Homo sapiens: one gene and its partners. The gene in region 3 interacts genetically with the main gene of each other region. Each region holds a gene or a part of one and is shown on either strand. Other genes may lie near its edges.

Region 1 (3,654 bases), on a different chromosome or scaffold from region 3:
CTGCAGGGCAGTGCTTAAAATGCCAGCACGTTTTGGTGAGTAGGGCACAGTAACAGCTGATAATTTTGATCTTGATATCAAACCAGTTGGAAACTCTGCTTTGGCTCTAGAGTTAATATGTAGTTGTAATCCATCCTTCATCCTCACCCCCATCCCCTAATGAAATACTAATTTTGCATCACATGCAGATGGGGGCTGTTAATCTTTATCTGCCAAAAACGAAGATTTTAGCACTGCACTTTGGAGAAAGTTTAAGTACTGTAATTATTAAAGAACACATCTGTGTTATGTTGTATATGTCATTAATATATGTGAACAGATAATAAGCATGTATCTCCTTTTTATATTCCTACTTTAGGAATTTGATTATGTTTTCTCAATTGATGTCAATGAAGGTGGACCATCATATAAATTGCCATATAATACCAGTGATGACCCTTGGTTAACTGCATACAACTTCTTACAGAAGAATGATTTGAATCCTATGTTTCTGGATCAAGTAGCTAAATTTATTATTGATAACACAAAAGGTCAAATGTTGGGACTTGGGAATCCCAGCTTTTCAGATCCATTTACAGGTAAGTTAGTGTTTATATTGAGTCTTATGTAGTTCCATTAGTGTTGATTGATTTTTTTGATGTTTTCAAATAGTCATGTGATTAGCTTTTTCAATAAATACCAATATCTACAGCAGGGTTTTACTTCACATTCATATGTTTAAGCCTCAAATGATGAAGTAATTCTGTATTTTACAGAAATAATAGTAAATTGTTGTCTTTCAAAAATACAATCATACTATAATGGAATTTCAGTTATTTGAAACAAAAATAAACTTGTAAGTTCTTTTATATAGTGTTTCTTTTAAAAAATTATATTTTGGCAAAATTTAGTAAATCTTTTTTTCACATGAGGCTAAATTGGTCAGTCATGCATCAAATCTAAAAGTGAACCCTATGGGTAGTTTTAGTTTATATGTGATGTGTATTCTACACGTTCATTTTAAGTTAATTGTTTGTAACATCGTATACATCGTATCTCATGTTATAAATGCAGTTAGGTGCTCATACCAGTCTGTAAATTGTAATCCTAATGGTACTAGTCCAAATTCTGGCCCCTAGGAAGTGGAATCTAATCCTAGTAATATTAACGTGAGTTCTGGAGACTGGTGTAGGAGGAAATAAAATGCCTCCTCTAAATAACATTTTGAGATAGGCACTTTACTGTTAATGTTTTCCTCTCATCATTTCTGACTCAACATTTTTCAGGTGCTAGTGCTCTTCCTTGTTTTACGAGGACTTTGTATTATATTCCTGTCTCAAATCCTTATGTAGATCCACCTTTTCTTCCCTGACAGCTACTCCACATTCCCAAATTATCTCCTCATTCTACTTCAAAATTTCATTGCCCATTCATAAAATAAAACTAATGTTACCTGCATGTTGATTTAAATAGAATTATCAGGCCAGGTGTGGTGGCTGACGCCTGTAATCCCAGCACTTTGGGAGGCCAAGGCAGGCAGATCACAAGGTCAGGAGTTCAAGACCAGTCTGGCCAACATAGCGAAACCCTGTCTCTACTAAAAAAAAAAAAAAAAAAAAATACAAAAAATTAGCCAGGTGTGATGGATGTGCGCCTGTAATCCCAGCTCCTTGGAAAACTGAGGCAGGAGAATCACGTGAACCTGGGAGGCAGAGGTGGCAGCGAGCCAAGATCGCACCATTGCACTCCAACCTGGGCGATAGTGCAAGATTCCGTCTGAAAAAAATCAAAAAATTTTAAAAAAAATTATCAAAGTAACTTACTACTGAATTACAGATGATCTGATCCTCCAAATACTTGCACTTAAAAAGAAAATAATTGTTTAGTATGTGGATATTTTTGTTGTTGGAATTTCAGACTGTAGTTCAAGAGTGAACACAGATTGTAGTACTGTGTAAGCTATTTTGCATGTGGGATACAGGAAAGGAATTAAAGCAGCTGACTTTGTCTGGAAATCTAGGAAGCACTTGGCTTGTTTTGCCCTTCTGAGACTCTTAACTTTTTCAGCATCCTTACTGTTTTTTGTTTTTTGTTTTTTGTTTTTTTTGTGGACAACCTGATTATTTCCCTAGAGGTACTAACAAAACATAGGCACATACGCCACACATTCGTAAATGTATAAATGGAAGTCTCTTTCCTTTGTAGTTTTCATCCCTTTTCTAATTCTCTTCTCCAGTAGGTTGTAAGCTTCAGTGGATATAAGCAATTTTGTTCCCTTCTGGATCCCCAGCCCTGAGTCCATTGTTTGACACATGAATTAATGAACCTAGAGCTCTAAATGATTAACATTTAGTGCCTGTGGTTTTGATAACAATAACAACAGCAGGAACTCTTGTGAATTTGTATAGGAACAGGGACAGGAATTGATTGTATGTTTATATATTTAGGTCAGATATTACCTGCAATTCTCTTTTGATATTTGAATTAAGTTTTAATATTTAAGTGCTGGGGCTAAGGTATAATAAAGCATTAAAGTTAAGAAAACAAAACTTGGAGAATCATTAAAATTTCAGTTTTTTCCCAGTTATAAGACTTCTGACTATAGTTTCTGTCATTCTATCATGTGAAAGTTTTGCTCTTCTGTTTTTCTCCAAATGTAGGTTCTTCTAAAACAAGCATTGTGCTGTTTGAAAAATTCAGAACTTTGGTGCACTTCTGCCTTTTCTTTATTTTGCATGCACAGGTGGTGGTCGGTATGTTCCGGGCTCTTCGGGATCTTCTAACACACTACCCACAGCAGATCCTTTTACAGGTGGGATGTAGTTTTGATTCATGTATCTTTCTTCACTAAATGTATAGCATCTTGCATCACATGGCTTTACATCTTGGAGATGTCATCCAGTAATTGGTAATTCCCTTATCTGCATTTCCAATTTTGATGGATTTCCTTTTCTTTAACTTCTGATTTTTGCTTTTTCCTGGAGTGGTTGTGTAGATTCCCTCGTGACTTTTAAATAGCATATTATTAGAATTCATTGTTTTCTCCAGGGGTCCTTCCCACCAGGAGAGCAGTATAGTTAAGAATATAGGTTTTAGAGTCAGACAAACCTTGGTTCAAAATTGGGCTCTACCACTTACTTGCTATGAGAAGTTGGCAAGTTACCTAACCTGTCTGAGCCTATTTTTTTTATCTGTGAAATTAGATAATAGGGGAACCCACCAACCAAGACACAGCATGAGTGCTATCACTGGCGAGATGCTACCAATCACGAGCAGAGAAGGAGCCATGTGAGCCCTGATATTGGATGGAGCAGTACAATCAAGAAGTCTCCCCAGGCATATTTTGACTTAACATGGAAGGAGACATTCCACCCAACTACCCAGGAGTAGTCTTCCTAATCTAAGTTATTAATGTCCTTCTTGAAGCCCTTGAAGTGTTGGTGTATCTCTTCAAAATGAATTTATTTACCAAGGTATGCATGCCTCAGCATCAACACTACTGGAAAAAGTGCCAGAGTTGGACTTTAAGGCAGCTGAAGAAGTCTCTATTTTCAGAATGGCTTTTGATATCTTGTATAATGCTGTTGTTGGATCTTCAGACAGAGTTCCTCGACAGTATACTCAGTTTGGGAAGAGATCATAGCGTTTAGGTATCCACTGGCCTTGCAGACTGGT
Region 2 (3,654 bases), on a different chromosome or scaffold from region 3:
CTTTTATCACCATTTTACACATGAGAAAACTGAGCAACGCAGACTAACACTTGATCCAGGTAGTACAGTGGCAGAGGCCTGATTCTAACCCAGGCAGTCTGGCTCAAGAGTCCAAGCTCTTTACCACTACTCTTTCGTCTTCCTTTCTTCCTTTCCCTCCCACCCTCCTTCTTCCTTTCCTTTCTTTTCTCTCTTTCTTTTCCTTCCTTCTTTTCTTTCTTTTTCCTTCCTTCCTTCCTTTTCTTTATTTTTCCTTCTTCCTTCCTCCTTCGTTCCTTGCTTCCTTCTTTCCTTTTCTTTTTCTTTCCTTTCCTTTTTTTTTCTTTCCTTTCTTTTCTTTCTTCTTTAACTTTTTGAGACATTGTCTCACTCTGTCTCCCCAGGCTGAGTGCAGTGGTGCAGTCATGGCTCACTGCAGCCTCAACCTCCCTGGGTCAAGTGATCCTCCAACCTCAGCTTCCTGAGTAGCTGGGTCTACAGTTGCACACCCCACCATGCCTAGCTAATTTTTTCTATTTTTCATAGTGACGAGGTCTCACTTTGTTGCCTGAGTTGGTCTCAAACTCCTGGCCTCAAGCAGTCTTCCCACTTGGCCTCCCAAAGTGCTGAGATTACAGGTGTGAGCCACCACGCCCAGCCTTTTACCACTACTTTAAATTCCATTTAGATCTAATATTGATAGAGTGATAACCATATCAACCAGATTTTTTAAATATGCAAACAATGGTGCCAGTTTCTGTATCTATGTGACAAAAATATATAGAGTTTGTGGTATCACTTTTACCTGTTTAGAGCACTCTTTGGAAAGGCAGGGAAATTACTGTGAAGGTATTGGTATTCCAGAAGTAAGTTCCTGGAGTGTTTGCCTTCTAAGGTGTGAGGACGTGGTTTGTCACACCCAGTTAACTAACAGATAGACGGTGTAGTGAGCTGTCCGGAAGACTTAGCAGGTTAGCCTAGGGAGGAAGGAGAAAGGGGTTCTGGGCACATGGAGGGAGGGGGAGGGAAAAGAGTTTGTTTGAATCTGTCCTAGATTGGGGTAGCTTTTTCGGAGGGAGGCCTTGTCGTGTGGACCTGCTGCATATAAAGACAGGAGAATTGGACCTGAGGTGTGGTGCTAGCTAAAGCGCCACACAGATCTGGGAATTTAAGAGGAGTTCATTTCCTCAATCATTAGGAAGAACTTGAAAGGGTAGCAAACTGTGGTCATTTGAGAAGAACAGCAAGTGGTCATATTTGAATGTAACATATTCAACTGGGTTGGGAAAGAACCAGAATCTAGATCTTGCCCATAGCAAGTGCAAAACCAGGCGTTCTTATAAACCATGTACTCTTGTAAACACTGATAAGACATAGCACTGAGTCCTGAGCTTTTCTTCTATAAAGTTATTGTACAGGTTGAGGATCCCTAATCCGAAAATCCAAAATCTGAAATGCCCCTGTGAGCATTTCCGTTGAGTGTCATTGGCACTCAAAGTTTTGGATTTTGGACCATTTCAGATTTTGAACTTTCAGATTTGGGATGCTCAACCGGTATATAATGCACATATTCCCAAATCTGAAAAAATCCCAAATCCAAAGCATTTCAGCTCCAAAGTGTTTCAGATAAGGAATATTCAACCTGTACTACATTGTACTAGGCTTGTATTAGATTCCCAGTTTTCAAAATTTGTATCTCAGAATCCCTGTTCTCTGTCAATGAAACAGGGATTTCATACACCTTTGATTCACATTTTAATGTTTTAAGTTTAAAATATTATAAATGTTTATACACAGTCAAATGAATCTCATGCTAAATTTTAATATATTAGAGACAACTGATTTGTCTGCCAGGTTATCTCAAGAGAGTTAATACTGAGTGAAAACAAGTGAGAACCCTAAAAGATTACATACTGTATGATTGCATTTATGTAACATTATTGAAATAACAAACCTGCAGAGATGGAGAACAGATTTAGTGGTTGCTAGGAGTTAGGAATGGGAGGTGAGGGGTGGTGTGGTTATAAAGTGGTAGCATGAGGGAGCTGTGTAGGGATGGAACAGTTCAATGTCTCAGGTGTGATTATACAAAGCTGCAAATGTGATAAAAACTTCATACAACCACACACACACATACTGCATATAAATCCTAGCGTACTCAAGTCCCATTTTGCATACAAAACTGGTGAAACCTGAATAAACTCAGGATTGGAGGAATTTGGGCGAGGGTACTTGGGACCTCCCTGTGTACTTTTTTGTAAATTCCTGTGATTTATAATTATAGTAATTTTAAAATAAAAAGTTGGCCAGGCACAGTGGCTCATGCCTGTAATCCCAGCACTTTGGGAGGCTGAGGCGGATGTATCACGTGAGGTCAGGAGTTCAAGACCAGCTTGGCCAACATGGTGAAACCCCATCTCTACTAAAAATACAAAAATTAGCCGGGCATGGTAGTGGGTGCCTGTAGTCTGAGCTACCTGGGAGGCTGAGGCAGGAGAATCACTTGAACCTGGGAGGCAGAGGTTGCAGTGAGCTGAGATCATGCCACTGCACTCCAGCCTGAGCGACAGAGCAAACTCTGTCTCAAGAAAATAAAATAAAATAGACTGGGTGTAGTGGCTCACGCCTGTAACCCCAGCACTTTGGGAGACTGAGGCGGGTGGATCACCTGAGGTCGGGAGTTGGAGACCAGCCTGACCAACATGGTGAAACCCCATCTCTACTAAAAATACAAAATTAGTCGGGCATGGTGGTGCATGCCTGTAATCTCAGCTACTCGGGAGGCTGAGACAGGAGAGTTGCTTGAACCCAGGAGGCAGAGGTTGCAGTGAGCCAAGATCACGCCATTGCACTCCAGCCTGGGCAACAAGAGTGAAACTCCGTCTGAAAAATAAAATAAAATAAAATAAAAAGTAAAAAAGCAAAAAAAAAAAAAAAGTGCATTTAGAATATTTGAGAGAAAATAAGCAAAAGGAAGAAAATGTAAATTATCTATAATGCTTACACCCAGGACAATAATCCTTGGAATAGAGTGTCTCACTTTGTGTATAGAAATGAAACTTTTAAAATGCCATTTTATTTTTTAATTAAAATTTTTTCTTTCCTTTTTTTTCCTCCTCAGAGTTAGAAAGGATAAAAATGTTATTGATTAGTAAGACTGTAGCTTTATGTTGATATTTTGAAATTTTAGGCTAGTGCTTGTTTGTTCATGTAACATATAAGCACATTCAGTACTATTAGAACTGTTGCATTATGCAATAACATGACTGCCTAATGCATATATCAGGATTAGTACATATTGTAAAGTTTTTATTTTTTACCAAAATGTTTACGACTACCAAGTATTCATTCCTTAACACTATTACATAATTAATTTAGAAATGTTTTACTTTTAAAACTTCTGGACAGGTGTAATTAAATCCTTAGATAGCGTTAATGTACTATTTAAAAAACACACACAAAACATTATCATTGGCAAAACATGCTTTATCATCTATTCATCTTTGTGAATCCGGTTTTTCTTGATACCATGCCATCAAAACAAAACAAATTTGACATAAGACTGCCCAATCATCCATAATTTAAAGTTGGTGTTCGTCAGAAGAATTTTATTGTTCTCATTATACATGTTATACATTTGAGCTTTTTTTTTTTTTTTTTTTTTTGGAGATGGAG
Region 3 (3,654 bases):
CAGATCACTTGAGGTCAGGAGTTTGAGACCAGGAGTTTGAGACCAGCCTGGCCAACATGGTGAAACCCCAACTCTACTAAAAATACTCTGCTAAAAAAGTGGAAAAAAGGGCTGGGCGCAGTGGCTCACACCTGTAATCCCAGCACTTTGGGAGGCCGAGGTGGGCAGATCACCTGAGGCCGGGAGTTTGAGACCAGCCTGACCAACACGGAGAAACCTCATCTCTACTAAAAATACAAAATTGGCCCGGCATGGTGGCGCATGAATGTAATCCCAGCTGCTGGGAGGTTGAGGCAGGAGAATCGCTTAAACCTGGGAGGCAGAGGTTACGGTGAGCCGAGATTGTGCCATTGCACTCCAGCCTGGGCAACAAGGGGGAAACGCTGTCTCAAAAAAAAAAAAAAAGTGGAAAAATAAATAAATAAATAAATAAGTGGTTTTAAGATTGTTCTTAGAACCACTGTGATATTCTGACTCCCTCATTGACTTTTGGATGGAATGAGTAAGGGTTTATCAGGTGGACAAGAGTGAGAAAAAACATTCAGAATAGAAAGGGAGCTTCATATGCAAAGGCAAAGAGGCAGCAAAGACCATGACTTTAAAAAGTAGGAATGATGTGGCGTGGTGGCCCACACCTATAATCCCAGCATTTTGGGAGGCCAAGGCAGGCAGATTGCTTTGAGCTCTGGAGTTTGAGACCAGCCTGGGCAACATGGCAAAATGTTGTCTCTACAAAAAATACAAAAAAATTAGCCAGGCATGGTGACTCATGCCTGTAGTTCCAGCTACTTGGGAGGCTGAGGTGGGAGGATCGCTTGAGCCTGGGAAGCAGATATTGCAGTGAGTCAAGATTGTACCACTGCACTCCAGCCTGGGCGACAGAATGAGACCCTGTTTCAAAAAAAAAAAAGGAACTTTTTAACTTTTTAGGGTCTTTTATTTTATTTTATTATTATTATTTTTTGAGCCGGTGTCTTGCTCTGCTGCCCAGGCTGGAGACCAGTGATGCAATCTTGGCTTACTGCAACCTCCACCTCCTGGGTTCAAGCAATCCTCCTGCCTCAGCCTCCTGAGTAGCTGGGATTACAGGCCCCTGCCATCATGCCCAGCTAATTTTTGTATTTTTAGTAGAGTGGGGGTTTCACCATGCTGGCCAGGCTGGTCTCAAACTCCTGACCTCAGTTGATCTGCCTGCTTTGGCCTCCCAAAGTGCTGGGATTACAAGCATGAGCCACTGCCCCCAGCCGAGGGGCTATTTTAGACAAAGAATATGTGTAGCTTATATGGGGCACCAATGGCTGCCACCCAGCTTGAAAAATAACATCACCAAAACTGAGGCTGCATGTATGTATGCCCTTCCCTGTTAGTTCCCCCACACTCCCTGCCGCTTGCCACTATTCTCAATTTTTTTGTGTGAGCTTCTCTGGGGTATAGTCCTAGAAGTGGAATTGCTGAAATATAGGATATGAAGTGCTTTAGCTTTGTAAGATAATGCCAAATTGTTATTCAAATTCATATTAATTTAGATACATACCAGCCACTTGGTCTGCATTTTTTACCAACTTAAAAACAATTTTTTTTTTGAGACAGGGTCTTACTCTGTTGTCCAGGCTGGAGTACAGTGGTGTGATCGTGGCTCACTGCAGCCTTGACCTCCTAGGCTCAAGTGATCCTCCCACTTCAGCCTCTCAAGTAGCTGGGACTACAGGCACATGCCACCATGCCCTACTAATTTTTAAATTTTTTGTAGAGATGGAGTTTTGCTATGATGCCCAGGCTGTTCTCAAACTCCTTGGCTCAAGTGATCCTCCTGCATCGGCCTCCTAAAATGCTGGATTATAGGCGTGAGCACCTGGCCTTTTAAGTATTATCAGATTTAAAGTGTTTTGCTATTTCAGGAATGTAAAGTGGTATATCATTATAATCTTATTTTGTAATTTTCCTGATTATTAATGAAGCTAATAATCTTTTCATATATTTATTTGCTGTTTATGTTTCCTATTCTGTGAAACACCTATTCATCTCTGTTGCCAATTTTGGGGAGGGGTTATATGTCTAGTTCTTATAGTTTTGTAGCAGTTATTGTATACTCTGGATATTACTCCTTTATATTAGTTATATGTGCCTCAAATATTTTCTTCTGGTTTGTGCCTTATCTTTTCCCTCTTTTTTATGTTGTCTTTTGAACAGGCATTTTTAATTTTAACATGGTTGAATTCACCAATTTTTTAAAGAGGTTTTGCTTTTTGTTTCTTGTTTAGGTACTTCTCCCTTATGCTGAGTTTATAAAAATACTCTCCTGTAGCCAGGTGCTGTGGCACACACCTGTTGTCCCAGCTACCCAAGAGGCTGTTGTGGAAGGATTGCTTGAGCCTAGGAGTTTGAGTCCAGCCTGGGCAACATGGCAAGACCCTATCTCTAAAAAAAAATCAAAAAGAAAATATTCTCATATATTAGCTTCTAAGAGATTTCAAGTTTTGCTTTTCATATTTAAATAACCTGAGATATATTTTTGGTATTCCATTAAATAAGAATACAATTTATTGTTTCTTTTTCTCCTGCTTTTGTTGGATATAGACAGAGTTGCCAAGTGATACAGTGACTCCTCTTTGGATCCTGTTGAGGTAACTGGGATGCCACAAAGCACTAGGGGAATGTTCTAGACCCAGCTTTAAATGGACAGTGGTTTCAAGGGTACATGTTACTCAGAGTCTCTGGGCCAGTGGCTTATCTGGCTAAGGGTGTTAGTTGGTATTTATTTAGTTGTTCCCTCTCTTATTTATTTTTTTCTATTAATTTTTCATTTGTGTGGGTACATAATGAATGTATTTCTCTTGTTATTTCTGACACAAGATAAATCTTAAGTTCGTTTCTACTATACTTTTATGAGGTTTCTGCAGGCCTTTATGACCTTGTGACAAGGGATTTCTTGGCCATTGGCTACCAGGCAGCAAGTGGTTCATCAGTTTCCCATCTGAAGCTGAAGGGCACAACTGTTTGGAGATTCCCTGAGTGAGGGGACATACTCAGAGACCTAGAAGGAGATTAGGCAGCTCTGCATAGTACTTGAAAATAATTCCTCTTCATTCCCTAGATGTTTCTTTTTTTTTGAGACAGAGTCTCACTCTGTTGCCCAGGTTGGAATGCAGTGGCGCGATCTCGGCTCACTGTAACCTCCACCTCCTGGGTTCAAGTGATTCTCCTGCCTCAGCCTCCCAAGCAGCTGGGATTACAGGTGTGTGTCACCACACCTGGCTAATTTTTGTATTTTTAGTTGAGGTGGCGTTTCACCATGTTGGCCAGGCTGGTCTTGAACTCCCAACCTCAGGTGATCTGCCCACCTCAGCCTCCCAGAGTGCTGGGATTATAGGCGTGAACCACTGCGCCCAGCCCTAGATGTTTCTTTTTTACAATGATTTTTTGCTTAGACCTTTGCTGTCTTAGAAAGTGGTTACTTCTTTTCTAAAGGGCTTATTCATTTTTAGTCAATCAGCTGATTAAAATTTAAAAGTAGTTAATAGGTAATATATGTTTGTGACACAAAATTCAAAAGGTAAAAAAGAATATACAGAGAAAAGTTAGTCTTCCTTTCACTCCTCCACCACTCAGTTCCATAGTCATCCAGTTTCTTTCCCTGGAGGCCGTAACCTCTTA

Evidence for each region.
Region 1: changes in GBF1 (region 3) and PLAA together harm fitness more than expected from each alone (negative genetic interaction), as found in Homo sapiens cells (one study listed by BioGRID).
Region 2: changes in GBF1 (region 3) and VKORC1L1 together harm fitness more than expected from each alone (negative genetic interaction), as found in Homo sapiens cells (one study listed by BioGRID).

The regions. Positions count from the first base shown.
Region 1 is NC_000009.12:26,916,234-26,919,887, reverse strand, and holds part of PLAA (phospholipase A-2-activating protein), read left to right. Parts: intron 1-358; coding exon 359-578; intron 579-2,639; coding exon of another isoform or gene 2,640-2,722; coding exon 2,723-2,791; intron 2,792-3,182; coding exon of another isoform or gene 3,183-3,271; exon of another isoform or gene 3,272-3,654. UniProt on the Homo sapiens protein: Plays a role in protein ubiquitination, sorting and degradation through its association with VCP. Involved in ubiquitin-mediated membrane proteins trafficking to late endosomes in an ESCRT-dependent manner, and hence plays a role in synaptic vesicle recycling.
Region 2 is NC_000007.14:65,879,515-65,883,168, forward strand, and holds part of VKORC1L1 (vitamin K epoxide reductase complex subunit 1-like protein 1), read left to right. Parts: intron 1-3,654. UniProt on the Homo sapiens protein: Involved in vitamin K metabolism. Can reduce inactive vitamin K 2,3-epoxide to active vitamin K, and may contribute to vitamin K-mediated protection against oxidative stress.
Region 3 is NC_000010.11:102,251,949-102,255,602, forward strand, and holds part of GBF1 (Golgi-specific brefeldin A-resistance guanine nucleotide exchange factor 1), read left to right. Parts: intron 1-3,654. UniProt on the Homo sapiens protein: Guanine-nucleotide exchange factor (GEF) for members of the Arf family of small GTPases involved in trafficking in the early secretory pathway; its GEF activity initiates the coating of nascent vesicles via the localized generation of activated ARFs through replacement of GDP with GTP.